Linked DNA regions of Homo sapiens. The protein of the gene in region 3 interacts with the protein of the main gene of each other region in a pairwise test. Each region holds a gene or a part of one and is shown on either strand. Other genes may lie near its edges.

Region 1 (8,105 bases), on a different chromosome or scaffold from region 3:
TGGGAGGCCAAGGCCAGTGAATCACTTGAGCCCAGGAGTAGGAGACCAGCCTGGGCAACATGGAGAGACCTCATCTCTACAAAAAAAACAAACAAAAAAAAAAACAAAAATTAGCCCGGTGTGGTGGCCTTCATCCGTGGTCCAGGCTACTCCGGAGGCTGAGGTGGGAGGATCACCTGAGCCCGGGAGGTCGAGGTTGCAATGAGCAGTGATTTCACCACTGTACTCCAGCCTGGGAGACAGAGTGAGACCCTGTCTCGAAAATAAATAAATCTTAAAGCTTAAGAAAAAATGGCTTGGTGCGGTGGCTCATGCCTGTAATCCCAACACTTTGGGAGGCCGAGGCAGACAGATCATCTGAGGTCGGGAGTTCAAGACCAGCTTGACCAACATGGAGAAACCCCGTCTCTACTAAAACAAGAGCAAGGCCAGGCGCGGTGGCTCACACCTGTAATTCCAGCACTTTGCAAGGCCGAGGCAGGCGGATCACGAGGTCAGGAGATCGAGACCACGGCGAAACCCCGTCTCTACTAAAATACAAAAAAATTAGCCGGGCGCAGTGGCGGGCGCCTGTAGTCCCAGCTACTCGGGAGGCTGAAGCAGGAGAATGGCGTGAACCCCGGGAAGCGGAGCTTGCAGTGAGCTGAGATTGCGCCACTGCACGCCAGCCTGGGCGACAGACTGAGACTCCGTCTCAAAAAAAACCAAAAAAAACAAAAACAACAACAACAAAAAAACAAGAGCAAAACTCTATCTCAAAAAATAAAAATAAAAAATTACTCTTTAGAGCCTACGACACCATATGATCATAAAAAACTAATAGCAGATCCCTTGAGGGATCTGAAGTGTAAATAAGAATTTTATTCTGTAAATTACTTCCACACAATGTATTTTAATGAGTTTCCTTTTTGTTTTTGCTTTTTAAAAAAAAATTTTAAGGGGCCATGCTAATCTTCTCTGTATTATTCCAATCTTAGTGTATGTGTTGCCAAAGCGAGCACTTTTTTTTCCCTGAGACTGAGAAGAAAGTTAACTGGATTATGGAGAAATGCAATCACATCTATTGACTGGTTTTGACCTGACTGCGTCTTAAACACTTCCTTGTACCTTAATATACTCATTAAAAGGAGATATAATCCATATAATGAACAAATGTTTTATTATGCCATTTTTACCATGCAGTTAAAACAACCCAACCACTTGTTAATCAAATTTTAAACCATAAACTCTTAAAGTGGAACTAATAACTCTCCACAAACAACAAAATATCAACATGGTCAAAGTGGTCAAAGATAAAATAAATAGTACATATTTTAAAACATCCTGCAGAATTCAAAACCCATAAACACAAACGCACCAAAAAATAAGGCCCAAATAATCAATGACACTTACTAGTACACCAGCAGCAATGGAAGCAATAGTATTGCGCTTTTCCCCCCAGTCAATGCATTCTGAGCATCTCAAGCCCTCTAGAAATCCAGACATTTTTTTCAGGTCACTTAAAAACAAACAAACAAACAATTAAATAAGTACTTCCATTTACTTGCTTCAAGCCCGAAAAATAATTAATAGCTCAGGAATAATTAGATAAAAGTGAAATTACAAATGCTTTATTTTGGTTCCACATACTTCTTCAGAATATTTGATTTAGTTTTTGATGAATTTCCACATTATAACTTTGGAAAGTAATATCTGGATTCATTTAGTATCTTTTTTAATGTAAAAAATGGTTTGGGGGCCGGGCGTGGTGGTTCATGCCCGTAATCCTACCAATTTGGGAGGCTGAGGTGGGTGGGTCACCTGAGGTCAGGAGTTTGAGACCAGCCTGGCCAACATGGCAAACCCCATCTCTACTAAAAATACAAAAATTAGCCGGGGGTGGTGGCGCATGTCTGTAATCGCAGCTACTTGGGAGGCTGAGGCAGGAGAATCGCTTGAACCTGGGAGTCGAAAGTTGCAGTGAGCCGAGATCGTGCCACTGCACTCCAGCCTGGGCGACAGAGCAAGACTCTGTCTCAAAAATAATAATAAATAAATAGAAATAAATGGTTTGGATATATTTAAGCAGTATTAACAAAGGTGGGTCTCCAAATATTGAAAAAATTTTAACTACTGGTTGACCTCCTCCTGAAAATCTGTCACATCCTATTATTTCTAAGTAGGTATTAAATTAGTTTAGGTGGTACTTTTAATACCAAGTATATGATTACTAATCCACAGGAGCTCTTTTGTATCATTTTGATTCCAAACTTATTAAATGAATTTGATATTTACAGTCCAGGAGCACTAACATTAGTAGAGAGACAAGTGATAAACTTTGGCTCTGAGTGGAATTACAGATTCAAATGAAAAATATTTCTCTAATTTACATATTTTATCACAGAACGTGTGTTTCTTCACACCTAAATCAAGAAATTAAACACTGCACTGCAGTTCTTACCTCTACCCACATCATTTCCTTTCACTTCATTCATTATTTTTCTTTCTGCAAGCCTGCCTTTTGGTGTCATTTCTATATAAAGAACATCCACTTTAATATCCCTATCTCTGATCCTAACGGGTGTTTCCAGCCAAAAGCAAGCACAGAATCGTGGTTAATAGTAATTCAGATTACAAAAATCCAACTGCTATTTAAATATAGCCGACCCAAGCTGTCTTTACAAATTATATAAAACATTCCTGTAAGCCGAGCAGTAGAGACCTGAGATACAGCCATGTTATCTCTATTTCAGAGTATGAAAAAGCCTGAAATACATATAACTTGCGAATAACAACACCCAAACTCCTACAGCGAACTTGACTTCCTTAAGATACTTTGTAGCCAGCAATTATGGTTGTCCAAAAATATGACACCCTACAATAGAGCAACGTCTCCCATTTTTAACTTCTCTTTTAAAAATTAAATATTAAAATATATGATTACAGCCAATGCTAAGATGCCTTTGGGACAAGTTCAATTTAGGAAATTCACTCATTTGATTCTTCCCCGGGAAGAACTGCAATTCAATAAGTGTTATTTTCGGTTCATCCCAATGGCCCCACCCCGAATCCATTTTTCTTTGCACGACGACTGGTACGCTCAAGCCAGACCCCGCCCTCCAAACTCTGGGACTTTTAGGTCTCGAGGGACGCCGCTGGAAGATGGGGGAGCCACCTTTAGCCGGGGCACCCCTCGCTGAGGGAGCTGGCCGGGTCACGCTCCTTTCTCGGGGCTTCGGCTTGTCCAGCTGTGAAGTGGGGGATCGGGGGATTTTCCAGGGATCCTGGGGTGTCCCGGGGGAGGGCGCGGTCCCCTCTCCGTCTTGGCGGGGTCTGGACGCCGTCGCCTTCTCCTGGCGCCGCCGGACCCAGGAGAGGAGAGGTCCGCGGCGGCTCAGCCCGGGTCTGCGGCTTCCGGGAGGGTGGCGGCAACGAGCCTGTGCTGTGGGCACCAGCCCGTCAGACGGCCCCGGCTCCGAGGCCTCTCCAGCCTGCGGCCGCTACTCTCTTACCCCCACTCCCCGCCCGACACTTACGTCCAGCCCCGTCGTGCAGTGGTTCCGGAGCCCGGTGTCGCGCCGCGCCGGCCCGCCTCACTCCCCCGATTTTAGCCAAGAAAACAAAACGGCCACAGCCTCCAGACACCCGGATGCAGCAGTACCATCCACCCGGCTCAGTCGCGCATGCGGACACGGGGCGGAGGGCGGGGCGCCGGGTCCGGAGGGAGCCACGCCCACCACAACAACGCGTCTGCGCATGCCCGGGCGCTGGGTTCAGGGGCTTTCCGCCGCTCTGGGTTCACAGCTGGACGTCGGGAGTGCTAGTTTGGAGTACGCCATTTGAGAGTAGGCGTGAGAAGTTGCTCTGTGTGCTGAGCGTTCTAAAGGAAGGCGTCCGTTGGCCTTCGTACCCGTCTTGAGTGAGGTGACGAGTGTTTTCTAGTACTGGGGTCGGCCGCGCAGCCCTCTCAGGGGTGGGTGGCAGGAAGAGTGCCGGGTCCCGCGTGGTGCAAAAGGTGGGTTCAGGTTTGCGGCCACACAGCGCTACTCAGGACTTTTTAGTCTTGTTTATTTTCTCCGTGCCTGTTCCCGCCCCCCGCAGCTCCACCTCTGGGAGAGGGGCGGGTTCAGCTCCAGGAGGCGGGGACTTCCCGGCTTGGCGTGGCTGGGGTGTCCCGTGGACCCCAGTCTCGGCGCGGTGACCCACTTATGGGACTTGGCCTTTCTTTGTTGTTTGTTTAAGGCAGGGTTTCTCAGCCTGGGCACTACTGAGGTTTTGGGCCGGCTAATTCTGTCTGGGTTGGGGAGGGTGCTGTCCCGTGCTTCGCAGGTTGTGTAGCTGCATCCCCCGCCTCTACCCAGTGGATGCAAGTAGCAGCCCCAGTGAACCAAAAATGCCCCCAGACTTTGCCAAATATCCCCTCCCGGGGAAGATCGCCTCGCTTGAGAACCACTGTTGGAGGAGAGCCTGGGTTTTCGGGAGGTAACCGTTTACAAAGGGGAGAACGGTAAGAAGCCGGAAGCAACGATGACTTAGCTACGTGAAAGACTTGCGGCCGGGCTCGCCCCTCTTCTAGAAGCCGTCAGTTTGGGTCTCGCGTCTGGAATCACCGTCAAGGAGTCAGATCCAGCCCCGGAGAGGGAGCAGGGTCGAGGTCTCCTTGCAGAAGGCGCCACCGCAGGAAGCACAGGCGCAACGTGCGGTCTCCCTAGCGGAGGCGCTCGCGATCCTGCAGCCGCCGGTCCGGGAGGTGCTCGGTAGCCCTCCTTGGTGCCTGTCCGGTAGCTGGTCACTCTCGGGGGAAGGTCGTGTGCAGAAGGGCACATGCGATCACACAGAGACGGCGTTGCTGCGGCTTTGACCCGATGGTGCACCCGAAAGAACACAGAGGGTGAAGGGAGAGATCCAGGAAGTGGTCGCGGAGCAGAACCCCCCTTCACTTCAGTTAAAAAGGTGGGTCAATTGTCGTTAAGAGATACGCACAGGTTCATCTGATTGACATGTACGGCGGCAGTATATGAGTGGGATGGGAACCAAGGTGACTGTTGTTTCCTTTGATGGATGAAACTTTCATCCCTTTGGGTTTTTTTGTTTGTTTTTGGCGGTGCATTAGCCGATTAGTAGATAAAACTGCATGACAATCTATAGCCTGTTTTTAAATGGACACGTTCTTACCACTCAGGAGGTTTATCGTGATTGTTTAATGTCTCAGGGTGGAGGAATCTAGTGCAGGCAGTTCTTAATGAAACCTTTTAAATTCCCGTTAGTGACTTAACATTAGTTTACCAGCTCTGAGCAGCTTTAAACAAACATCCTCTTTTAATAGCTAATGAGTGCGGGAGAAAAGATACTAACTCCTTTCTCTTTGCGTTTTTTGCCCCTACCCTTTTTTCTCTTTTCTGGCCTTAACATGATTGTCAAATATTTATAAATATGAGTGAGCATCTTTATATTACTCTTACTAATAAGATACATGCTTAATTTGTCATTCTTTACCTTTTTGGGACTTAATGAATGTTTGTCTTTTGTAGATAAAATGGAGCTGCTAGAAATAGCAAAAGCCAGCCACCCATATTAACCCCTCCATTTTCCCTATAATTAATGGCTTTCATTATTGTGGTATATTTGTTACAATTACTGGACTAATATGATACATTATTATTAACTGACATCCACATTTTATTCAGATTTCTTTAGTTTTTTGCCTAATGTCTTTTTCTGTTCCAGGATCCCCTCCAGAATACCACATTACAGTTAATTGTTATGTCTCCTTAGTCTCCCCTTGGCTGTGTCAGTTTCACATACTTTCTTTGTTTTTGATGATATAGATGTGAAGAGTACTAGCCAGGAATATTATAGGTATTGGGTTTTTTAAATGTATGTGTCATTTCATGATTAAAAATCAGTTGCGGCCAGGTGTGGTGGCTCAGCACTTTGGGAGGCTAAGGTGGGAGGATTGCTTGAGGCCAGGAGTTCAAGACCAGCCTGGCCAATGTGGCAAAATCCCATCTCTGCTAAAAATACAAAAAATATAGCTGGGCACGGTGGCACACACCTGTAATCCCAACTACTCGGGAGGCTGAAGCACAAGGATTGTTTGAACCTGGGAGGTGGAGGTTGTAGTGAGCCAAGATTGTGCCACTGCATTCTAGTCTAGGCAACAGGTGAGACTCTGTCTCAAAAAAAAAAAAACAAGTGTGGATTACAGTATCTGTTGGGCCTACTATCGTAAAACACATACACATGCATGTGCACACACAAACCTCCAGGCTATCACTTCAGTGCCAGCCAGCAGCATTTCTTACTCTAACCACTGCAACTGTGTCCCTGCTTCATCTTGGGGCTTCATTCTCATATATTTTCTTCACACAGCAGCCACAGAGAAGCTTTTACAATGTAAACCAGAGTCTATTACTTCTGTTCTCCAACTACTTCAGTGGCTAAATTGGTACCAGTAGAGTGGGGTGCTGCCGTAGATACTCAAAAATGGGTATGTGACTTTGGAACTGGGTAACAGGCAGGGTTTGGAACAGTTTGGAGGGCTCAGAAGAAGACAGGCAAATGTGGGAAAGTTTGGAACTTCCTAGAGACTTGTTGAATGGCTTTGCCCAAAATGCTGATAGCACTGTGGACAATAAAGTCCATAGGCTGAGGTGGTCTCAGACGGAAATGAGGAACTTGTTGGGAACTGGAGCAAAGGGGACTCTTGTTATGTTTTAGCAAAGATACTGGCGGCATTTTGCCCCTGCACGAGATATTTGTAGAACTTTGAACTTCAGAGAGATGATTTAGAGTATCTGGCAGGAGAAATTTCTAAGCAGCAAAGCATTCAAGAGGTGACTTGGGTGCTGTTAAAGACATTCAGTTTTATAAGGGAAGCAGAGCATAAAAGTTCGGAAAATTTGCAGCCTGACAATGTGATAGAAAAGAAAAATTCCCATTTTCTGAGGAGAAATTCAAGCTGGCTGCAGAAATTTGCATGAGTAACAGGAGCCAAATGCTAATTCCCAAGACAATGGGGAAAATGTCTCCAGGGCATGTCAGAGGTCTTTATGGCAACCCCTCCCATCACAGGTCCAGAGATATCAGGAAAAAATGGTTTTGTTGGCCAGGCCCGGGGTCCTCATGCTGTGTGCAGCCTAGGGACTTGGTGCCCTGCATCCCAGCCACTCCCAACCATGACTGACAGGAGGCAAGGTAGAGCTTGGGCTGTAGCTTCGGGGAGTGCAAGCCCCAAGCCTTGACAGCTTCCATGTGGTGTTGAGACTGCGAGTGCACAGAAGTCAAGAACTGGGGTTTGGAAACCTTCGCCTAGATTAAAGAGGATGTGCGGAAATGCCTGGATGCCCAGGCAGAAGTTTGCTGCAGGGGCAGGGCCCTCATGGAGATCCTCTGCCAGGGCAGTGCAGAAGGGAAATGTGGGGTCAGAGACCCCACACACAGTCCCTACTGGGGCACCACCTAGTGGAGCTGTGAGAAGAGGTCCTCCAGACCCCAGAATGGTAGATCCACCGACAGCTTGCACCGTGTACCTGGAAAAGTTGCAGACACTCAATGCCAGCCCATGAAAGCAGCTGAGAGGGAGGCTGTACCCTGCAAAGGTACAGGGGCAGAGCTGCCCAAGACCATGGGAACCCACCCCTTCCATCTGCGTGACCTGGATGTGAGATGTGGAGTCAAGAGGAGATCATTTTGGAGCTTTAAGATTTGACTGCCCCACTGGATTTTGGACTCTCATGGGCCTGTAGCCTCTTTGTTTTGACCAATTTATCCCATTTGGAATGGCTGTATTTACCCAATGCCTGTACCCCCATTGTATCTAGGAAGTAATTAACTTGCTTTGGATTTTATAGGCTCATAGATGGAAAGGACTTGCCTTGTCTCAGATGAGACATTAGACTGTGGACTTTTGAGTTAATGCTGAAATCATTTAAGACTTTGAGGGACTGTTGGGATGGTGTGATTGGTTTTGAAATGTGAGGACATGAAATTTGGGAGGGGCCATGGGTGGAATGATAGGGTTTGGTTGTGTCCCCACCCAAATCTCATCCTGAATTCCCATGCGTTGTGGGAGGGACCCAGTGGGAGGTAACTGAATCATGGGGACAGGTCTTACCCGTGCTGTT
Region 2 (8,052 bases), on a different chromosome or scaffold from region 3:
CACTGGAAGAGTTTCAATCATTTTAACAATCAGCCACTGCCAGACTGGCCTTACACAAATGGTGTCTGAGCAAACCATTTTCTCTTAGCAATGCCCAACCTTGTGCAGCCTGTTTTCACTTGTGGCAGAAGGCTCCATCCTATGAAGGATAATGGGAAGGCTTAGAGAGCACTGCCCAAAGTAGTACAGAAAGAAGTGCAAAAAAAAAAAAAAAAGGAAAGAAAGAAGTGTGAGGCAAATGGCTGCTGGAAAGTTCCAGGCTAAGTCTTACCTGGAAAAGCCAAATGGATCCAAAGAAAACATTCCCCAGGGAAGACAAAAGCAACAAGCTCAGGGCTGACATCAAGATACCTATAAGACACAGCAAAAAGCTGTCTTGAGAGAAGCCAAGGCAAAGTAAAGCAATCCCATTAAAGCCATTCCTTAACTTCCCCCAGAATGAAGGTTAATCTCAACTCAATAGTCGCAAAGGAGTTAGGGGTAAGGAAGGAGTACTAGTGAGAATTCTGGCTAAAAAGGAGCCCCCATTCCCTGTTTCCCAGTTCACACTTACCTCCCAGAAAGAGGTAGCTACGGCGCCTGGCATAGAGTGCACTGAGGGTGAAGCAGGTAAAGATCATTGCCGTGCCCATGAAAGCAGTGGGAAGGATGCTGTTAGAAAAAAAGACCATTAGATTAAGGGCTACAGGTATACGGTCTACATTTAGAAGGTATATTCATAAAGATAAAAGCACATAAGACACTACCAAAAGAGTTACCTGGGGTTGACAGCAATACAAAACTCCAGGGCAGGGCCCAGGCCAACTCCTAGAAAACAGAAAACCCAGAACACAGTATTACGATCAATTCTTGAATAGGATCCTCATCCAAAAGCTGATCCCGAAATATAGGCATACTCATGCTCTTAACAAACGTGGACTAAAGAATTAAATCTCTCTCCCCTCCGCTGTAATTGTTTTCAATAAAATGTATACCTGACTGCGTTGTTTTTTTTTTTTTTATAGAAATAGCTGCAAAATTGTCCTCTTAGCTGAAAATCATGGATGACCTCAGGGAGGGTACAGAGATTACAAGAAAATAAAGTAGGCATGCCAAACATTTCAGAGCTAGAGTGATGTAAGATGGTAATATAGGCCAGATCAGGAATTAGAAAAAAAGGATAAAGAGCAAAACAGTGCCTCGTGGCCAGCAACCTTATAGTCATGTAGGACTGACTCCCCTTTGTAGCAAAGAAAGGTGAGACTGGTTCTGCAGGTGGACACCTGCCAACAGGAGGGCAACCTGTTCCAGCTCTAACATTTCTTTCGTTCTAATTACTTTCCTCTTTCCTTCTGATAATTCCACCCCTTAATGCCTTCAAAAACTAGCTTGCCCTGATGCAAAAATTTTAATCCCTAAATCTCTTCCTTTCTAAAATTTCTCCTACGTATATTAGACTGTCACTCAGAACAAGCTGTTCTAATTCAAATGTTTTGCAAACATTTTTATTACATAGCTTGAGTCTTGTTTCCTTTATGACAATTCTAGAAGAGCTGTGCCTTTCTTTTTTTGAGAATCAGCAAAGTGTCCTGCACAATAGATCTCAATGTATAGCTTTAATGCACTGTCTGTAAGACTCAGAACAGAAGCTCCTATGATAATTGCCAGTATGGGTGCAACTATGTCGGATTCTCAAGTCTAGTTTATTAAAAGTTCTATGCCTACTATTAATAGGTTATGCTACCTAAGCTCTTGAACCTCATTCATTCAAGTACACAATGGCTATTTTTGGACACAAAAGTAGAGTCACAGTGGCTACTCACAGAGTTTCCCCTAATGGATGGGGAAACAAAATGAACCTATATGAGATTAGAAAGCAGGCCAGGAAGGCCAGGCACAGTGGCTCACGTCTGTAATCCCAGCACTTTGGGAGGCTGAGGCAGGTAGATTACCTGAGGTCAGGAGTTCGAGACCAGTCTGACCAACATGGTGAAACCCCGTCTCTACTAAAATACAAAATTAGGGCCAGGGGCAGTGGCTCATGCCTGTAATCCCAGCACTTTGGGAGGCCGAGGTGGGCGGATCACGAGGTCAGGAGTTCGAGACCAGCCTGGCCAACATAGTGGCCCATCTCTACTAAAAATACAAAAGATTAGCTGGCGTGGTGGTTGATGCCTATAATCCCAGCTATTCGGGAGGCTGAGGCAGGAGAATCGCTTGAACCTGGGAGGTGGAGGCTGCAGTGAGCCAAGATCGTGCCACTGCACTCCAGCCTGGGCAACAAGAGTGAAACTCAGTCTCAAAAAAAAAAACAAAAAAACAAAAAAAAGCGCTGGGTGTGGTGGCTCATGCCTGTAATCCCAGCATTTTGGGAGGCTGAGGCGAGCAGATCACGAGGTCAGGAGATCAAGACCATCCTGGCCAACATGGTGAAACCCCGTCTCTACTAAAATACAAAAAATTAGCCGCTGTAGTCCCAGCTACTTGGGAGGCTGAGGAAGGGGAATCGCTTGAACCTGGGAGGCAGAGATTGCAATGAGCTGAGATCTCGCCACTGCACTCCAGCCTGGCCACAGGGTGAGACTCCATCTTAAAAAAAAAAAAAAAAAAAAAAGCCAGGAGGCAGGGTACTATGGCTCACGCCTGTCATCCTAACACTTTGGGAGGCTAAGGTGGGTGGATCACTAGGTCAAGAGATCAACACCATCCTGGCCAACATGGTAAAACCCCATCTCTACTAAAAATACAAAAATTAGCCGGGCATGGTGGCACATGCCTGTAATCCCAGCTATTTGGGAGGCTGAGGCAGGAGAATCGCTTGAACCCGGAAGGCAGAGTTTGCAGTGAGCCAAGATCACGCCACTGCACTCTCTAGCCTGGGTGACAGACGGAGACACTGTCTCAAAAAAAAAGGAAAAAAAGGGCCAGGCACGGTGGCTCATGCCTGTAATCCTAGCATTTTAGGAGGCCGAGACGGGCGGATCATGAGGTCAGGAGATCAAGACCATCCTGGCTAACACGATGAAACCCCGTCTCTACTAAAAATGCAAAATATTAGCCGGGTGTGGTGGCAGGTGCCTGTGGTCCCACCTACACGGGAGGCTAAAGCAGAAGAATGGTGTGAACCTGGGAGGCGGAGCTTGCAGTGAGCCAAGATCAAGCCACTGCACTCTGGCCTGGGCAACAGAGCGAGACTCTGTCTCAAAAAAAAAAAAAAGAAAAAAAAAGGGGGGGGAACTAATTAAGAGATACTGAAAATATAGCTCACCCCTCAAAATTAGACAAATCCCTTAACGTACCTGTAAGGAATGCAAATCCAGCAAGAAGTCCCAGTCTTTTCTGTTCAGTTTCATGGCTATGAGGTGTTGCCATCAGCCAAATCATCAATATCAGGGAGCCCAAGGCAGACAGCAGGCCAGCCTGTTAGAGTCAGAATCAATCAATCATTAAACACTTGAAAGTTTCAAATTTATTTTGCAAGAGACCTTTATTGGGTTCAAACACTCGTCTGAACTTCCTAACATTTGCTTATAACCTGGAGGCAGGAGAAAAAGTAGTGTTTTCTCAGGGATGGGGCTGAGGAGATAACCCAGAAGCCTTGAAGCACAGAGTTAGGACCATGGTGGATGCTGGAGGCTCTTCTGGCTTGCGTAGTCCTTCAACTACAGTACAACTACCCAAGTCAAACTATGAGTGAGTCTTGCCCAAAAAATAGAAAGGATGAATGAAACGTGACAAGTGCTTAAAGTACATTCCATCTGTAGAACAAATAGAAATGATCCCCCTTTGGTCACTTTAAAAAAAACATGGTGGCTCACGCCTGTAATCCCAGCACTTTGGGAGGCCGAGGTGGGCAAATCACCTGAGATCAGGAGTTCGAGACCAGCCTGACCAACATGGAGAAACCCCGTCTCTACTAAAAATACAAAATTAGCCAGGCATGGTGGCACACGCCTGTAATCCCAGCTACTCAGGAGGCTGAGGCAAGAGAATTGCTTGAACCCAGGGAGGCAGAGGTTGCAGTAAGCCAAGATCACGCCATTGCACTTCAGCCTGGGCAACAAGAGTGAAACTCCGTCTCAAAAAAACAAAAACCAACAAACAAAACCCCCAAACACCAAAACACCAAGACACATACATATACAGAAGACTGCAAAGTACTAAAATGTTAACAGTAGTTATTTCTGGATGATGGGATTATGGAAGTTTCTAAAATACTTCCTTCTCATTGCTAGTCTGTTTTCTGAATTTTCTAAAATGAACACATATTAGCTTTGTAGTAAGAAAAAAGTGTTTCTTTTTTTAAAAACGCCAAGTGGGAAAAACTATAGGCATTAGAAAAAAGAGAAATCATTAAGGATGGACGTAGACACTGAAGTTCCTTCCTTCCTTTAAAGGAAGAAGTTGATTCTCATTATTCAGTGTTTATGTTATAAAATCACAGTGGACAATGAATTAGTAAACCCTTGTTCCTGAGGGAAATAAAAGGTAGGTAGGTTCCTGCAAGCCTAAGGTCACAACATTTTCATCAAATGATCAATAGATACCTTGCTTTTATATGTGTTTCTGTTTAAGGACACCTCATTTGACATTATTTTTGATTCCTTAACATTGAACTCACAGTTACAACAGCAGTACAACTCATGCCGGAATGAAGCTTATCTAATATACACATTTTCTTCATAAGGCACATTACGGTCTTTCTGCACTCAGGAATACTAGACAGCACTTCAGCACTATGCTGTTTGCATTCTGAACAGCAAAATTAAGCCAAGCATGGTGGCATGTGCTTGTATTCCCAGCTACTTGGGAGGCTGAGGTGCGAGGATCAATTGAGCCCAGGAGTTTGAGACCAGTCAGGACGACACCACAAGACCTCCACTCAAAAAACCCAGCAAAATCACCAATTAAAAGCACAAAAATACAAAGGAAGTGGCACTAAATGACCATGAAAAGAACATTTGTTTACAATACGAGAACTGAAACAAGAAGGCAGAGCACTGTCTTGTTCAACCTCAGCTGAAAACACTGCAACAGCAGGGTGACTCAACTTTTTCACCACTCTGTGACTGTCTGCAAAAAGTGCCATGAGTAACAGAGCGAGACTCTGTCTCAAAAAAAAAAAAAAAAGTGCCATGAGTATTGATTTTGGGGTTACAAATTTTAATGAGTAGGTGAATTCACAAATATAGAGTCTGTGAATAACAAGGATTGACTGTATTTTACTAAATTATTTAAGGGCTAACCTTGCCTAAAACTCAAGCGATCAAAGCCCTATCCTTTGAGTGTCTAAAGTAATTTTTCACACAATCCCTGCCAGGAGATGCCTGAACATAAGGATAGTTCTCAACAGTGGCAAATGCCAACAGAGGCCCACCTCTACATTTATGCTAAAAGGAATACTCTACAAAGGCACAAGACTATGTTAGGGAGTCTTCAAACTTTCTGGTTATTCCTCAAACTGTACCTTCTACTCCTGCTGACCAAACCCAGATTCTCTCTCAATACAGGAAAACAAATTGTTGAAGGTTTTTACCCAACCATGCAGACAACAGTTATCGGAAAATAAAACAGGTCAATTCCTTAAAAAGATCTCAATCCTGCCTCTCCTGATAGTTAATCACACAATCAGAGTTTTGTAAAGGAAGAATGGAGGAAAAGATAAAAAAGCTTCTGTGCCAAAGAATCCCAGCATGCATGCCATGCGCCTACTCAGTGGGTGGGGGTCTTGTACGTCAGCAGCACACCATTCAGTGCCAAGGTTAAGGCATTCTGTTTTTCGGTATCTAGAGGGGGCACAGTTGCCAGAAAATTAAAATGGCTTTACATGTCCTGATTTAATGTCTGAGTTTAAATCCTAAACTACTGATAAAGATTAAAGAGAGGAACAGGGTCCCTTGGACCACCTTGCTGAGCTGGTTTTTTCCTAATGTAATTTGTACCACAGCAACCAGGAGAGAAAATCGTTCTTACCTGAATGAAATGAGTGACCATATGGACATAGGCCCCTGCAGCCGCCACAAACATACAAAGGGCAAAACTTGCATAGACCTTCTTCAGGTGCTGCTGCGTTGACGGGGTTCTAAGAAAAGAATGTGAATAAGAGCAATCAGTCCCAGATCAATCTCATATTTAAGCTAAGAAGAATCATTTCTCTCTTTCCCTTCCTGGGAATATGTAAAAGTTCTGTTACAAATAGTTTGAAATACTTTTAGGAAAGCATATTACAATAAAAAATAATATTTTGAAAATAGGTTAACAGAACCTTAAATGCTGAGGAAGACCAAATGCCCAAAATTATGAATAATCAGTACCCAAACTAGAATAAATGCCTTTCCAATAACCACACAGCAACGTGTAGAATTTGGACATTTTCATCAGGTCCTCTGGATTCTGGCCAAGTTAATTTGTTAGCTTATACACACAAAAGTTATAAATGCAGAAAAGGGACAAAGAGATATGAAAAGAAATGCAGTACAAAACCAGTCAAGGTCAAAACACTTACATATGAGAAAATTTTAAAAGCGCATCAAAGTTGATCTTTCGATCAAATATGTTCATGGTTCCAGAGTCCGTGCAGCAGTCTCCACTCTGCAGAATAAAGAAAGGTTAGAGTCATTAAGTCATACAGAATCACACGAACAGCTTATAAAAAAAAAAAAAAGCAACATGTAAGTTCAGAAAGATGAAAACTTGCCTAAAATTCTACAGCCCTAACACAACCATTTTTATTTTTATGTGTCCTACAATATATTTGCAATCATAGTCAACCATCTTAAAGACGACAGAGGAATTGAATGCATCTTCTTCTCCCTCAAACTATTTTGTTACTATCATCTGATTTCTATTCTTTCAGGTGATTTGCCACTTTAAAAGGCAGTAAGTTTATAAAAGAAATTCTCAATTAACAATCTAGTTAAAGGAACCTAGACATTGGCACATAAAGCAATTTTATGTCATTGTTTCAAGATGCTAAAGAATTCCCTTGGCTGGGCATAGTGGCTCACTGAGGCCTATAATCCCAGCACTTCTGAGAGGCTGAGGTGGGCGGATCACCTGAGGTCAGGAGTTCGAGACCAGCCTGGCCAACATGGTGAAACCCTGTCTCTACTAAAAATACAAAAATTAGCTGGGTGTGTTGGCACACACCTGTAATCCCAGCTACTCAGGAGCCTAAGACAGAAGAATTGCTTGAACCTGGGAGGCAGAGGCTGCAGTGAGCCAAGACACGCCACTGCACTCCAGCCTGGGCAACAGGGCAAGAGTCCATCTCAAAAAAAAAAAAAAAAAAAAAAATTATCTCACTAGCAGCACCTCAAAGATAAAAAACAAAACTTTGACTAGTCTTAACAAAACAAACAAAAACTATAAAGCTGGGTCTGGCATTAAGACTTGCATTTTAAATATATGCGTATCAAATTTTCTTAACCTAACACATTTAAGAACTGAACTGAAAAGGACTCACAATTTTAAAAAAAGAGAGGTTCCTACCTCCATAAAAAAGGAATTTATGCAGAAAGGAGGATTTTTTGGGGGGTATTTTTTTGACAGTTTCAGAACCTTTCCTACAGAAAGGTTAGAACAGTACAAAGAATTCCTGTACAACCTTCACCCAGATTTCCTAAATGCTAATATTTCACATTTGCTTCATCTTCTTTCTATATAGCAATATATAGACAGATGTAAAAATATTTTTTCCCTAACCATACAGACACAGTGCTCCTAAACACTTCAGTGTGTATATCCTGAAAGCAATGATCAAAATCAGGATATTAATACTAATGCAATACTATTTCTAATCTGCAGACCTTATTCAGATTTTTGCCAACTGTCCCAATGTCAAAAAGGGCATTTTTAAACTGAACTATATCCAGGTTAGATCATATCAACACCATAAAGTCAAGTTCTTAAGTTTTGCTCCCTCCCCTATTTCACATGCAATCCTAAGTAAACGTGTTCAATCTACAGTACTAAAGATCCAGTCAAGAACTTTCATCTCTTCTAAATATAAATCCTCCAAACTCCTATCAGGGCCATAATGCCCATCCATTTTAAATCTACCAGAAAAGGAGG
Region 3 (8,052 bases):
GATCACCTTCTTCTTCATCCTGGGTTCCAGGTCAACACTCTTGCTTGGATTTTCTCTTTCATTTCTAGTCTCTCTTCATTAATCTTCCTTTGTAGTTCCTCAAGTTCTCTCTAGCCTCTTACCGTTGGACAGTTCCAGAACTTAGTGCGGGTCCCCTTCACTCTCCCATTCACTGTGCCTTCCTAGATAATTTCAGCCAGACCCATATCACATACATGCTGATGACTCCCATGTTTATACCTTCAGCCTAGCCATCTTTCCCAAACTCCAGGCTCATATATCCAGACGGCTAGTCTGTATCCCCACTGGGCTCACTAATAAGCATTTCCAATATCCCACATCAAGAACTGAGCTGCTGGTCATTCCCCTCAAAATTACTTCTCCTACAACTCTATTCTCCTAGCTGCTCAGGCCACAGTCTTAGTCTTGACTCCTCTCTGTCTTTCACACTCAATATCCATCTATTAGTAAATGTTGTCATCTCCACCTTCCAGCTACCCAGAATCTGACCACCTCCTACTATCTCCACTGCTATCACTCTGGTCCAAGCCACCACCATCTTTCACCTACATGATTACAACAGCTTTATAACTCCTCTCCCTAACTTCAACCTTCCCCTCCTATAGTCTGTTTTCTATGTGCTGGTCAGAGTGATCCTTTCTCTTCCTAAGTCAGATGTTATCTCTCTTCTGTTAAAACTTGCTAATGGCTTCCTATCTTACTGCAAGTAAAAGTCACTTTTTTAAAATGGCTTATAGAGGCCTACAATCAGTCTGCCATCACCTCTCTGACCTCATCTACTACTACTCTCTTTTTGCCAACCTCACTACAGTCATACTAACCCTTGGCTAATATCTGAACACGTCAAGCATGCTCCTGCCTTGAGACCTTTGTACCCGCCGCTCTCCTGCCTGGAACGCTCTTCCCCCTGCTACGTGTGTATCTTGCTCCCACATTTCCTTCTGACCTTTACTCATTTGTCAACTTCTCAGTGGTGCCAGTTTAGTCTTTATGTCTTGATCTCTTTCCATGCCTTGTTTTTTCCCTTAGCACTTACTACTATCTAACATACAATATAATTTATGTACCTATTATCATTTTCCCAAAATGTAAGTTTCATGAGGGCAAACTTTTAATTTTCTGTTTCATTCCCTACTGTATGTACAATACTGTGTCTAGGTATCTACATTTGTACATACCTAGGATAGAGCCTGGTACTTAGTAGATGCTCAATAAATATATGGTGAGCAAATAACTGGCATCCCCTACTATAACCTCTCCAATCAATGTTTATCCTGTCTCCAGAATACCTAATTAAGGGATAAAACTCACCTGAATTTTCAGCGTAAACTCTTTTAATGGTTCTGCAGTGCTACAGCTGATACAAACTAAGATGTCTTCAATAGGCAGGCATGTCCCAAAAATGTGATAAGCAAAGTGTACATGTATGTGGTGGGGACGAGGAGGCAGATATTAGAAATGGACAGCCTGTGACCCACTTAAGGGCATTCAATTCAATTATTTTTTAAAATTATGCCTGTTAATTGGCAGACCCTGTACACACAATAAAGAACTATCTCTACAGCGTGGCTTGGTGGGCACTAGGCAGGCCTGCCATGCGTATTCCCTCTTGGGCCCTATAACTTCAGAGAAAACAGACTGTGCACATCCACAGACTGGATAGTTACAATGCAGCTGAACACACTGCTTTTTCATTACTAAATAACCAGGCAAGGAAGCAAGATGTCACTGTTGGCATAGTCAGGAATTATATCTGGAATCCAGATGTTTGAACCAGATGACTAAACTTGCTAAAGGCAGTATTTACAACTATTCAAGGTAATTACAGTTGGGTTTCAGGGTGATATGTTGGGGATCTAAAATGGGTAAACTTCCATTCATTGATTCCAATCTGTTAGGACCTTACCTTGGACAGAAAGAACATATTTGCCAGTAACCTGAGTATATTTTCCATAAGGAACCAGGAAGACTTCAGAAGCTGCATTCATGGAACTGAAATCTCCTGGTGTGCTTTGCTTTGGGCTTATGATATAAATTGTACTTCTTTCAAGATTTCTGTGTCAGAGTGCTCCAGTTAGTCCTCAGTGGGTTTTTGGCAATGGCATACAGGGGCTTTCGTGATCTGATTTGACCATTGTTTACTAGAGCAGATCCATCTCTCAACATTGCCAACACACACTCAACTTACTGTTACCCAGGATCCATCCTCTTCTGTGTTAGGACCTTTGTAAATTCCTAGAATGCTCTTCCCACCAACTAGTTCCAGACAAACTCTTCTGCCCAAGAATAGACTTCTGTAGGAAGCCTCTGCAGATCCACTCAAGTCAGCTAATTACTTCTCTCCTCTTTTTTCTGTACTGTATCCAGTAGATATCTCCCTTCTTGATTTTATTAATTGCCATTATTGTTTTATGTCAATTCCATAGAGGCAGTAAGCATGTCTAATGTATCTTTGAATGACAGATGCCCAACCTTGTACATAGCACTTAAGGGGCCCTCAATAAATGTTTTTGGAATTTAACTTAATTATAACTAGAAAAGATTGATCAATTCAACGTGGTTAAGTAACAGCTGCACAAGGGTAGGGTGGGGTAGGTTGGAGTGGGAAAGAAAACATAAAGAAAAAGAGATTCAAATTATAACAACTTTTTCATATTTCATATAAATAAATGCAGCATTTTGCATTGGAAAAGAGTGTTACAACGAATCCCTATTTATTGAACCACCCCTGAAATTTCAAAAGACACTTTAATATAATGGGTTGATTATAGTCAGACAACCTGAGCTCATTCACTATACAATATTCCTTCTGTGAGCTAATTTGACAGAATATTTACATTCTAATTAATGGAAATTGGTAGAAAAAAACATTAAGATTCTCAAAAAATAAACTGGTACATGATAGAGAATGTGGTAGAGAACACAAAAAATTCACTTAAGAGTAAATATAAGAAGGTTCAAAACAAAAAATATTCAGTCTTACCAACAAAAAAAACACAAATTGAAACAACTAAGCAGCTGTTTAAACCATGTTAAATTAGCAACCTTTTGTTCACATTATACACCTAATGCTAGCGGATTTACTGTTGACATGTAGCAGGACTAACTAACATAGATCTACCAGAAAGCAATTAGGGCTCACTGTTTATAATTTATCATGAAAAAATTTTCCCAAAAGGAAACAGGGGACTATAAATACAAGACATTATTCACACTAAAAAAAAATTACAAGCTAGAATAGCCTCAAAAGAATGGTTAAATAAAAAAGGTATACCCATTCTTGGAATATACATAGTCATCACAACAATAATAATTACGTACTAATAAGTGTTAACAATGGGAAAATTATAATAATAGAAATAATGGCTAGTATTTATTGAGCATTTACTACGTGTAATTACTATGAGCATATACCAGGTACTATGGTATTTCGCATGCATTGCGAGATAGGTACTAGTATAGGGTTGTCAGCATCACAAATAAAAATATAGGATGCCCAGTTCTACTTCAATTTCAGATAAACAACAGATGATTGTTTTGTATAATTATGTGCCATGCAATATTCCCTGTCGTTTATCTGAAATTCAAATTGAACTGGCAGCCTGTATTTTATCTGGGTAACTAGTAACCCAGATACTAGTAATACATTTTACTGATGAGAAAATGAGGACACAGAGGTTAAATAACTTGTCCAGGAACACACAGCTAATAAGAGGTAATAAAATGCTAAGTTTACAAAAAAGTAGAAAGTAAATTTAGCCTACAAATAATTACAAATGGTAAAACATATACATGTTTGTGGACCACGGCTGAAAGGAAACATGGGCAGGTGATACTACCAACAACATCAATTTATTGATCATTTATTTGAGCATTTACTCTGGGCACAATGTTACAGCAATCTTCCACTCCCATTTTATAGATGAATAAAATGAAGAGTTAAATATTTTACTCAAGGTCACTAAGGTAGTAAGTGCAGTCAGATTCTAACTCCAAAGTCCTTGCTTATTCCACTTTGTCATCTTGATGTCCTAGAAGATTTTTTTTTCTTTCAAGTGCAGTTCTATCAATGTTGATTTAAAGTTTTTGTGTGATAAAATACATGTGCAAGGCCATATGAAGATTTCAAAGAGATCTGCAAAGCCTGGTCCTCAGGATTTGATGTGGTCTAAAGCCCTTCCTAGAGCCCACCAAATAAACATTTGAAAGAAAAGGAAGTCGTGATGCACATTTATTGCTCCAAGATTGCAGTGAAAACTGAAAACTTCTCCACAAATGGTGATTTTATTCAAACTTCATTCAGAAAATAGAAATACATACTCCATACTTGTCCTTTTAAAAGTGAGATTGCTCCCCCATTTATGCCTCTCACTAAGCTCCTCCACTTTCTCTATACACTTTGGAGTGTGAACTTGTTAGTTCCCTCAAGTCAACCTGTTAGGAAGAGATTATGAATGTTTTTAAGCCAACCATATGGGAAATTGCACTTGCAGCACAAACATAAAAGTGCCTCAATGCTACTTCAGTGAAAGCAACATCTATGCTCTATACATAATAGAAAATTTGAGGATGATTTCCTTTAGGTGTCAGTTTAATTTTTCCTTGAGAGTTTATCCCACATCAAAAAGTTTGTGCTTTTGATTGTTTATTTTGAAAGAGGCAGCTGGCCATAGGGCTGCCTGTGATGCCTTTACTACAATTTGCTTTTGTTTTCCCCTCTTGATAATTACCTCATGACTAAACCACTCACTGGTCCATGTAGAGGAGTCCCGCAGAGATGAAAACACACTTGTTTAAATAAAATATTTATGAAGGAGCCCTGAAATGTCACCGAAGTAAATGCAAATTAGATCTTCACATATTGTGCATCCAATATGCCACTCATTCCTTAGAAGACTCTTTTTCCTGATTGCAATTAACATTAATTTAAAAAAATTAATCCCATTGTGCATAATCACACCAAGGTCTATTCATAAACATCCAGTGTTTCAAGACTGATTCTCTTTTGACTACCTTAGAAAAATTTGAATCAAGGCTAATATTTAATCTTGATGATTATTTTGGAGATTTTTTTCATAGAAACTATATTTAATTATTATTTTACATGTACATTTTCTAATAAGTGACTTCATTATAATTTAACATAGGGTGACATTTGTGAAGGTTCTATATTCTGACCTTTTAATGACACACTATTTAGACAAGATTTTTCTTGATTTGTTTGTTTTTTCCCCTCTCAGATTGGTGGACATAATAGAGCCTTATGATATGTTCAATGAGCCCTTAAAAGAAAAATGTAGGATAACGTTGGGAAAAGAAAGTTAAGAATCAGTTGATATGGGCACTAGCTGTACAGGGTAACAGTCAAGGTTCCTAGTTTTTGATACTATCTTTCCTAATTTTGCAAGAAACAAATGTGAGCTGAGCTGAGAAGGGTTAGGCGGATGCATTCTTTGCCCAATGGTCTCAAAGGTTGTTCTCTACTTGGCTGCACATTAGAATCAATAGATGAACTTTAAAAATACTGATACCAGGCCCATTTCCCAGAGACTGTGATTTAAAACTGGTCTAGGGTGCAGCCCAGTCATTGGTAGTTTTTGTTGTTGCTGTTGTTTGTTTTTTCTTTGTTTGTTTGTTCCAGCTCCCTAAGTATTCCTAATGTGCAGCCAAAGTTGAAAACCATGACCTAGAAAAAGCTTTTCTTGAATAGAGTAATATTTACATGGAGAGAAGAATCACTAATCATGAGTCTTAAGGCTCTGCTTCATACTCTGACCTGCTGAACCTTTTCTAAACATTGGGTACAGACACAGAGAACATGCAGAAAAATCTCCAGAATATGGAGTTGGAACATGAATGGAAAACCAGTATCCTGGATAACAGAATTCATAATCAAAAATACTAAGCTGAATCTTTACAACTACATAGAATGTGACCTACACTTAGGGATTAAATCCATCATACAAGTACAGAAGAGAGAAAGTAGGTCTAAGGGTGGCTCTTATGAAAAACACCTAGAAAATTTTCATTGACAATAACTCCTCAGTTTTCAGTACATGTGATGTGACTACCTAAGAAGCTACTTTCACTTAGACCCAATTCTTCTTTTAAATGGACTCCATGGCCCTGGGCTAGTTTACTTCTCTGGACTTCAGTTTACTCATATATATCAATCACTTTTAGCCATGGTTCTTGAACTTTAATGTGCCTACAACTCTCACCTGAGGATCCTGTTAATATACAGATTCATATTCAGTGGGTCTGGGACATAACTGAGATCTCCAATTCTAACAAGCTCCCAGCAGCTGCTGCTGCTGCTGGAACACAGATAAGTGCTTAAAAGACTTGTGAGGACTAGTGAAATGACCTACATAAAGTGCTTGGCACAGACATGGTTGGCACCCTACAGAAGAAAAGACTTAAAAAGAAAATGATAAAAACATGTTTAAGACCTAGTCATTACATGATCCAATCCTCCTTTCTGTTCCTTGGAAAGAGTGGATCTAGATAAGTTAGGCTAGTTTACCTCCTAATAGCCAAAGGTGTATGATGGAGAAGAGAGATAAGACTAATGCTTTTTGACCAAAAAAAGTATAATCAAGATCCATGGGTAGAAATTTAAGAGACCTTTTAATTCCCTACAAGGAAAACCTTCTAACAATACATACTGTTCTATAACCAATTAATCTTCTTGACAGCGAAGTCTCCAGTTAAAAAATACGAGCATAGAGCAATTGACATTAAAGAGGATAGTCATACCTCAGGTCACTGTTCAACTGTAAAACAGCTTGGCTATCTAAAGAGGCATCACACACTTAATGTGTTACAAAAAGTTAAAATAAAATAAAAAATAAACCTCATGATTTCCCTCCTCACCCCTACCTTCTTCCTGAAGACTTCTACTTGTACATGGAATTTTTTAGGTCAAAAAGCCTTTGAAGCATCCTTAATTGCCCTTCTCTCACCTTTCACATCTCTTCCTTCAATAAATACTTGCGGCTGTACCTGCAAATTGCATTCATAATCCAATTACTTCTCATCACCTCCATTACCACTATCCCTGTTGAAGTCACTATCACCTCTGTCTGGATTTCTGAAATAGCTTCCTAAGTGGTTTCTCTGACTTCACCTTTGCTCTTCAACATAGCAGTCAAAGTGTTGTCACTTCTCTGCTCAGCACCTTCTAATGGCTTCCTATCTCATTCAGAGTAAAAACCAAAGTCTTTATAATGGTTTACAAGACTCTGCATGATCCACCCTCTCTAACTCTTGACCATACACGTCTTATCACTCTCCATCTGTTTCACACCTCTCCAGCCACCTCTGAAGTCACCATTTCTAGAATCATATCAATAATGCTACCACTTCAGGGCCTTTGCGCTTGCTGTTCCCTCTGCCTTAAAGGCTAGTCTCTGAGGCCTGCAAGTTTATGTCCCACATCATTAACATATAAAACACCATAAAGGCAACCAACAGAGCATTCTAATTGCTTTCTATGGACAAAAGTGCTCACACTCAGCACTTTCCTTTCCACAAGTTGGTACAGATGACAGACTGGGTGAGGCACTTCAGTTCCAACTGTGACTTAGGCTTATTTTTTTAAACCACAATTGCATCAAGTCCTCTGTGAACACCAAGTCAGGGAAATCTGGGTGCGGTACTCCCCCAACAGGGCACTATAACTACCTGGACAAAAAAGAACCTTTCTGATGGCTCAGGCCCGCTGGTCTGTGCCCTAGTCTTTCCACACCTCTGAAAAAATGAGTAAATTTCCTAGATGCAGGGTCACTTTGCTGTCCACAGGAAATTATATCTTTTTTCTCCTTTTATAACCAAAGTCCTTAGTTCAGCTTGAGAAAACCTAGCTATCACAGGGTGGCCGTGAATGGACAATAACAGAGAAAGCTGGGACATGGCATTCAGGTGGATTCCTTTCCAGAAAAAGAAGTCATCCATTTACCGAGATGACTCTCTCTAGGAACCCATGTCTCAGGGCTGCTGTGCATGGTTGTTCTGGTTCACACTATCAAC
Region 4 (8,052 bases), on a different chromosome or scaffold from region 3:
TTGGTATCAATGGCACATGATAATTTAGCTACTCCTGTCTTCCAAGATAAGGAAATAGTGATGAAAACTGCCATTTATTGGGCACTTACAATGCTCTGGGCACTATGTTAGGCATTTGATATTCATCTTCTCAACAGACCTGAGAGATGGGTTTTTCAGGTCTGCATTTCCTATTGCTGCTGAAACAAATTACCACGAACTTCGTGGCTTAAAATAACAGAAATGTATCTTACAGTTCTGGAGGGCAGAGGTCTAAAATGAGTCTCACCAGGCTAAAATCAGGGCTATGTTGCTTCTGAAGGATCTAGGGGGAGAAGCTGTTGTCTTGCCATTGTTTGTATAAAGAAAAGGGGCCGGGCATGGTGGTTCACGCCTGTAATCCCAGCACTTTGGGAGGCTGAGGTGGGCAGATCACCTGAGGTGAGGAGTTCGAGACCAGCCTGGCCAACATGGCAAAACCCCGTCTCTACTAAAAATACAAAAATTAGCCGAGCATGGTGGCGGGTGCCTGTAATCCCAGCTACTTGGGAGGCTGAGTCAGGAGAATCGCTTGAACCTGGGAGGTGGAGGTTGTGGTGAGCCATGATTGGGCCACTGCACTGGGCAACAGAGCAAAACTCCATCTCCAAAAAAAAAAAAAACAAAAAAAAAGGGAAGCTTGGAGAGATTAATTTGCCCAAGGCCACATTGCTAGAAAGTGCAGAAGCTGAGACTGAAACACAGGTCTGCCTGGCGCCAGATCATTTGCTAAACACTCTACAGTTTATAAAGTCTTGCTACATAGCAAATGCTTTCAGTAGAAATAGAAACACCTGGAGTGGAGAGAACAGACACATTTCCCTGCTCAGGAGACTCTACCTTTGCAAAGGTCAGAAACACTAGGCTTTTCTTCACTTACATCTCCAGCTTCTTGTCTCTTTAGCCCCTGGACACGATGCTCATATTTGCATATTTCCCCCAAACTCAGTGCTGTACCCACATGCTTTTCCAGAAAACCTGTCTGGATGTATCAAAAATCTACAGCTCATCCACCTACCCCCAAGACCAGAATTCTTAGAAGTAAAATGTGCAATGTGCAAGTCAATGAGAGGTTAGCATTTCATAGCTTCTACTTGGCCACTTGTATTTTAGACTAGGTTGGTGTCCAGAGGACCTAAAACATTTGCTGCATCCCCCAAATGGCCACAGATGTCAAGAGGGAGCCAAGTGTAGGCTTCCAGTGGCTCACAGCATAGTCTAATATCTGTAGTATAATGGTGACCACACTGGACTTGGCATCAGAATGCCAGAGTTCAAGTCCCAGCTTTGTGCTGTCATTATCATTACTGTGTAAAGTTGGACAATGTTTTCCTTAGTATCTACTTCCTCGTTTATAAAATTAGTAGACAATAACTTGTTAGATGGAGTTGCTGTGATCACTAAATGAGATAAAAGATACAAAAGTAATAGGTAAGCACTAAGATTGTTTACACATATAAGAAACTATTAATTATAACCAGAGGATATTTAGGAAGGGCAGGGTATTGGGTTATGATTTTGTTTTATATATCAGTGACCCCAGGGGGATAGAAGGGAGGTTTTAACAGTGACTGGTCTCACAGCCAAGGGCTCTTAGATTGAGGAGAAGCAGCCTTCCTTCCACCTTCCCTCTGTTCACTGCACAGGGGCTGCTCTGCTCGAGGGACCAGGAGGGCTTACACAAGATACCCATTTGTACTTCTTTTTATTTTCCATAGATGAATTCATGAGAGAAAAGGAAAAACACTTCCTAGTTGTGCTTGGGGTGCGGCCAGAGTCAGGTACCAAGCTGCACATCCACATGGGAGGGGCCCGCCTTGCATGCCATTAGCATTCCTGAACAGTTAACACTCGCCATTGGGCCTCATCCCTCTGCCTTTGGCCAGCTCTAAGGCCTCTGCCCCACACTGCAAGTTGATGCAGAGATGGCCCCTGAGGTTGTCCTTGTCCTGGGGCCACTTTCTCCCTGACACAGACATTACTCAGAGAGTATTCTGCTCTGCTGCCCTTTTGCATTCTTTCCTCCCATTGCCAACCTGTGAAGGGCATCCTGCACTTTATTGCAAGAGTCTCCAAAGTAGGAGGAGGCATTTGGGACCCTGTTTTATTTGTCTTTCTAGGTCCAAAGTGGCATAGTACCTGACATGTAGTAGGCGCACTCAATTGTTTTGCTAAATAAAAAGATAAAGTAAATAAATAATGTTTATTTGAATAAATGAGTGTGCAGATTAATAATTTGCCTAGAACTTTGTTGAAGAGCAAGTTAGAGAATATGGTGAAGTGGAACGAATGTGGGCTTTGGATAGACCTGGGTTTGAATCTTAGCTCTACCACTTACTAGTTTTGTGACCCCAAGAAGTTACTTAATCTTCTCGAGCTTTATCTTCAAATGAGTATAGTAATACTTAACTTCAAGGGTTACTATGAAAATTAAATGAGAATATATGTGAAGTTTTAATACAATATTAGTTACCCAATACTAATTTTGCTTATTTTTGTCTTATAAAGGAGACAGACTAGAGCTAATAGCCCAGTGGTTGGTGAAGGTACCTAAAACCAGTGGTTTATTATTATTATTTTTTTGATACAGAGCAACATTTTCAAAGGAAATAGGGAAATATGATTTCAGTAGGGAACTCTAATATATGAAATCAGATCAGAATGGTACTTCTCTGGCTGAAACGAGAGTAGGAATCCTGGGCTCACAGAGCATCTTCTCACCAGCTCTAAACCTCCTAAACACATAGCTAGCCCCAGAACGATTGGAAACTACTATTCTAGAGCTAAAGGAAAAGAAAGAAATAGGCAAATTACTGAGCTCAGAAGACAGTTACCCAAGAAGTAAGAGGACACTCAAAAGTGATGTTGAAAAACTGGTCACAACGTGTAAGCTGACCTTACAAAGTCTGTGTCAAAGACTTCCCCCTGCCCCTCATTCAATGGAAGATGTCTAGAAAAGTCCTGGAAAACTGAGACAAGTGAGTTTACTTTTATAATACATTAGCTGGATGGATCTTTAGGAAGAGCTGCTTTCCTGGCACACTTAGAGGAAAGGTGACATAATTTCTACAAAAGGAAAAGATCAGGCCTGGCTGATGTTTAGGGTTCTTTGAAGATTAATAAATGCCTGTGCATAGGGGTAGAGTAATGCACTTTTTTTTAGGTTAAAAAAGAAAAGCTTTGACACAGTTCCACACTAATGGATATTTAAAAAAAAAAAAAGACATTATGAATTTGTTGACCTTTCCATAGAGGATAGGCACGGAGAAAGAACAAAAGGGAAGGACAAATGGTGACTTCTCTATACACAGAATATAAACTGTGGTGTTCTCTAGGGCTTGGTAGTAGTTTTGCCTTTGTTAATAGCTTCTTGAGTTTTGTCTCTGCCTGCCTGATAAAGAAGTATTGTAATGAACACCTTGCGCTGGTTAATTTTGTATGTCAACTTGGCTGGGATATGGTGTTTGGTCAGTATCAGTCTAGATATTGCTGGGATATGGTGGGATTGGCTTGGATATGGTGTTTGGTCAGATATCAGTCTAGATATTGCTGTGAAGATATTCTTTAGATGTGATTAACGTTTAAATCAGTAGACTTTGAGTAAAGCAGTAAAGCAGATTACCCTCCATAACGTGGCTGGCCTCCTCCAATCAGCCGAAAACCTTAAGAGCAAAAACTGATGTTTCCTGAAGAAGCAGCATTTCTGCCCTAAGAGGACTGTAACAGAGAAACTCTTAAGTTTTCAGTATGCAGATTTTAGGTTTAAGTCTGCAACATCAGGCCAAGCGCGGTGGCTCACGCCTGTAATCCCAGCACTTTGGGATGCTGAGGTGGGCAGATCACCTGAGGTTGGTAGATCACCTGAGGTTGGTAGTTCGAGACCAGCCTGACCAACACGGAGAAACCTCGTCTCTACTAAAAATACAAAATTAGCTGGGGGTGGTGGCGCATGCCTGTAATCCCAGCTACTCAGGAGGCTGAGGCGGGAGAATCGCTTGAACGGGAGAGGCGGAGTTTGCCATGAGCCGAGATTGCGCCATTGCACTCGTCTCAAAAAAAAAAAAAAAAAAAAAAAAAAAAAAAAAAAAAGCCGGGCGTGGTGGCTCACGCCTGTAATCCCCGCACTCTGGGAGGCCGAGGCGGGTGGATCACGAGGTCAGGAGATGGAGACCATCCTGGCTAACACGGTGAAACCCCGACTCTACCAAAAATACAAAGTTAGCCGGGCGTGGTGGCAGGCGCCTGTAGTCCCAGCCACTTGGGAGGCTGAGGCAGGAGAATGGCGTGAACCCGGGAGGCCGAGCTTGCAGTGAGCCAAGATCAGGCCACTGAACTCCAGCCTGGGCGACAGAGCGAGACTCCGTCTCAAAAAAAAAAAAAAAAAAAAGACTGCAACATCAACTCTTCCCCAAATTTTCAGGTTGCCCACCTGCTGTATAGATTTCGGACTTGTCAGCCCCCACAATCACATCACATAGGTTAATTCCTTAGAATTAATATATATATATATATATATATATATATATATATATATATATATATCTCCCTCTCTCTCTCTCCCTCTCTCTCTCTCAACAGGGTCTTTGTGTGTCACCCAGGGAGTGCAGTGGCACAATCATATCTCACTGCAGCCTTGACTTCCTAGGCTCAAGTGATCCTCCTGCTTCAGCCTCCCAAGTAGCTAGGACCACAGGTGCATGCACAATGTCTGGCTAATTTTTAAATTTTTTGTAGAGAAGGGGTTTCATCATGTTGCCCAGGCTGGTCTTGAACTCCTGTCCTCAAGACTTGGCCTTCCAAAGTGTGGAGATTATAGGCGTGAGCCACCATACGTTGCCTCTCTCTCTCTTTATGTATCTCCTTTTGGTTCTATCTCTGAAAGAACCTTGAGTAACACACCATCCCAATTGGGATTGATGTATATTTTTGATAGAAGCACATATGATCATTTTCTGATGTCTCCTGATACCATTTTACCAATTCCCACTGCCAGCCCCTAACTTCTGGATCAGATGAATTAAACATTTTCTGTTTCCATTCCATACAGTGCTTCCATGGTGAACTTTCTCAAGCAGAGGTTCTCAAATGATCCTCCAAAACACAGATGTTCCATTTACTGGGACAACATGTTTTGATGCCAATATTGAATGATTCCAGTCATTTCCTAATTTGAGGAAAAATTACTATAAAAATTTGTGATTTTAAACATTTTCCTCTTACACATTTTTCTTAAATTGTGGATGCTACTACCACCTGTCTATGCTAAAATCTAGTTTTTGGTATGAATTTAGGCCAAAATGATCTACTTACTTATTTTAAATTTAGTAGACCAAAATTTTCTGGTATTCTACAAAGATAAACATGGCTTCCAAGTGCCAGCCACTTAGCCAATCTTGAGATCCACTGTCCTAAAACACAGCTCTGAATTTATATCTCCCCCCTGCTTAGAACCCTTCAAAGGTTCCCTGTAGCCTAAATTCAAAGGAGAGCCCTCGGTCATTCCCTCTGCACTTACAAGCCCAGCCACCAGCTCCTACTTACTTCCTATTGCCAGGTTCATCACTTGTCCCCCCACTCTCTGTTGCTGACCAGTTTCTTTGAATCCAGATTTGCTCCTGTTCCCTTCTGAAAGACCAGTCTATAGTATTTGGCCAGACCCAACTATTATATTTTCCATTCAGCCAGTGGAGGAGTGGTTGGACCACCTAAGAGATAAAGTACAAACTCCTCAGTGTGTATTCAAGGCAGCACCCATCCAGGTTCTAAATGGCCTGCCTGCCATTTTTCACTGCGTGCCCCACCCCCCCAACCCTTTGGTGTCCTGGTCATGCCACCATGCTGTGCTTAGGGTGTCCCTGTCTTTGGAATCCCTTCTCCCATTTCTGCCTATCGAACTCTTTACCACCTTCCGAAGCCCAGCTGAAAAACCTCTTCTCTCCTCAACTTCTCTTACCCAGAATTATCCTTCCTTCCCTATATCCCTCTCTCTGCCTATAGCAAATAGCTCTCCAGGGAAGCTGAAACCATTGTGGATATGTGTTTATGGCTTTTCTTCCATACTAGCCTCTGCCACAGCAATATAGTCTGGTACGTTGTTACGTCTTTTCTTCACCCAAGTTTGTTTAATAAGATATTCTGAAGCCACAAAAATTGGATTGCTGTGCATCAAAAAAGCCAATTTAACAAATAATTGCATTAAAAAGCAAAATTATAAACTTTTAAATTAATTGACGGGTGTCACACTTAGAAGTCAATGACTACACTTTTGGTAGTTTTTGTTTGTCTTAGAAGATATGTAATTTGAGAGACATTAAAGTGTCATTCATCCTAGGACAGTTATTGGCCAGGTGCCTGTTCACGGCATGATACATCAGTTCTGGCTGCAAACTTGGAGGCTTTGTACAGGTGAGAAATTTAAGGCTCACAGAGAGAAAGTGACTTGTTCACGATCATGATGTGTTATTAAAAGAGTTAAGATTCAAGTCCAGGTTTCCTAACTCTTAACCCAGCCTTCTATGGGGTTTGTCACTAATGATTATTCTTTTTAAGGTAGGGAGATCCACTTCCCTTTACGTCTTTTTAAATTAAGAGAAACTCTTGACCTCCCACCTGTGAGCCTACCCATGAGACTCACTACAAGATAAGCCAGAAAGGGAGCCACATAAACAAAGCTGGCAGGGAGAAAGCCTTCTATCCTTTTCCTTCATTCAAAGGCTTCCTCACCGTTTACCCTAACTTCTGAATGCCACAATTTGAGACTCACTCCTTCATTCCTGATTAAAATGCAAGCTCATATAAAAGAGGCACATTGAGTTTCATGAGCCATCCATGTCAATGCCTCATTTATCAGCTCCCTTCTCTTATTTAATTTTCAAAGGGCGAGGGAAGACACCATGAGAAGGAAAGAGACCCAAGGAGAGGGTAGAACCTAAAAAGACAAACCTCGTAACTTATGATTTGGGGGTTTGGGTCTGTCTCTCTGGCTATACTGACTTCTAATGATATGATGTGTCCTCTTTCCTGCCTTCTCTTTTAGCCCACAGTATGTAGAAACTGTTTTAGATATGTGGTCTTCTGAACCCTCCCCACGTTATTCTAAAACAATGCCTCCCTGACTATATTGGATTACTTATCTGGCAGGGGTGGGAAGGAAACCAATGGGATGAGTTACATTTAACAAGTGGAAAGCGGTGGAAGGCAGAGGGCAGAGCAGCAACTGCCCGCGTTAGAGATGGAACGCCCCAGACTGAAAGTACGCAACTCACCTCGAAATATTTTCCATGTAAAGGAATAGCCCCTGTGCACCCCGCCCTGTGGGAAAACTGCCCTGTGGCCTGGTATGATGATGATTTACTCAAATTGCTCAATACCCTGGGAGTTCCTTTGCTTTAAAGAGTGCAGATTTTTTTAAAGCTAGAATTATATTTCTTGTTTTTTCTTTATTGTGCTTTCACTCAGTTTGTTTTCCTATAAAAATTAATCATACCCGTAGTGTTGATGTTTCCAGACACATTGAAAGGTCTAAAAACAATTGCTCACTAAACAAACCAATTTGCAAAGCAGAAGAAAAAGAAGTGAGACTCGCCCAGTAAGCATGAGATCATTTTTTCAAGTTCATTACCTCTTTTCCTCACCCAAGTTTGTTGTACCAGAGAACACACAAACCACACCTCAAACTTTAGTTCATGCTAGAGAAATTTGAATTAACAAAGGAGAAAAAAAGAAAAGGAAAAATAGGAGAGGAAGAAACAAAGAAACACAATATGCGATTGCCTTAGCCCTCACCCTGAAACTCAGCACAAGAACAGACACTTCCTTGGCTCAGAGTAAAGATGGGTGTGGAGATTGTAGGTCACAACAATTGCTGGTCTGCTTCAACTTAAGGTAGGATAAGTCCCTGGAAATAACAAAAAGAGGAGGTTTCTCCCAGGGCTGTCACCCATGGCTCACAGTGCCCATAAGTTTTTCTTGCTTTAAAGCTCTAAACCTGTGTTGACTAATACAGTAGTTAGTAGTTGCATGCAGTTATTTAAA

What was found.
Region 1: the proteins of SYT9 (region 3) and TMEM50A interact in binary tests that used the Homo sapiens proteins (3 or more experiments, as listed by UniProt).
Region 2: the proteins of SYT9 (region 3) and TMBIM6 interact in binary tests that used the Homo sapiens proteins (3 or more experiments, as listed by UniProt).
Region 4: the proteins of SYT9 (region 3) and UPK1B interact in binary tests that used the Homo sapiens proteins (3 or more experiments, as listed by UniProt).

The regions. Positions count from the first base shown.
Region 1 is NC_000001.11:25,333,867-25,341,971, reverse strand, and holds the start of TMEM50A (transmembrane protein 50A), read right to left. Parts: upstream 3,639-8,105; 5' UTR 3,516-3,638; exon of another isoform or gene 3,155-3,515; intron 1,499-3,154; 5' UTR 1,486-1,498; coding exon 1,393-1,485; intron 1,002-1,392; exon of another isoform or gene 938-1,001; intron 1-937.
Region 2 is NC_000012.12:49,750,982-49,759,033, reverse strand, and holds part of TMBIM6 (bax inhibitor 1), read right to left. Parts: intron 6,571-8,052; coding exon of another isoform or gene 6,541-6,570; coding exon 6,485-6,540; intron 6,062-6,484; coding exon 5,953-6,061; intron 3,400-5,952; coding exon 3,279-3,399; intron 808-3,278; coding exon 759-807; intron 652-758; coding exon 554-651; intron 352-553; coding exon 272-351; intron 1-271. UniProt on the Homo sapiens protein: Endoplasmic reticulum (ER)-resident protein that confers cellular protection as an anti-apoptotic protein by limiting multiple stress-inducing pathways surrounding the endoplasmic reticulum and mitochondria.
Region 3 is NC_000011.10:7,254,581-7,262,632, reverse strand, and holds part of SYT9 (synaptotagmin-9), read right to left. Parts: intron 1-8,052. UniProt on the Homo sapiens protein: May be involved in Ca(2+)-dependent exocytosis of secretory vesicles through Ca(2+) and phospholipid binding to the C2 domain or may serve as Ca(2+) sensors in the process of vesicular trafficking and exocytosis.
Region 4 is NC_000003.12:119,175,861-119,183,912, reverse strand, and holds part of UPK1B (uroplakin-1b), read right to left. Parts: intron 1-8,052. UniProt on the Homo sapiens protein: Component of the asymmetric unit membrane (AUM); a highly specialized biomembrane elaborated by terminally differentiated urothelial cells.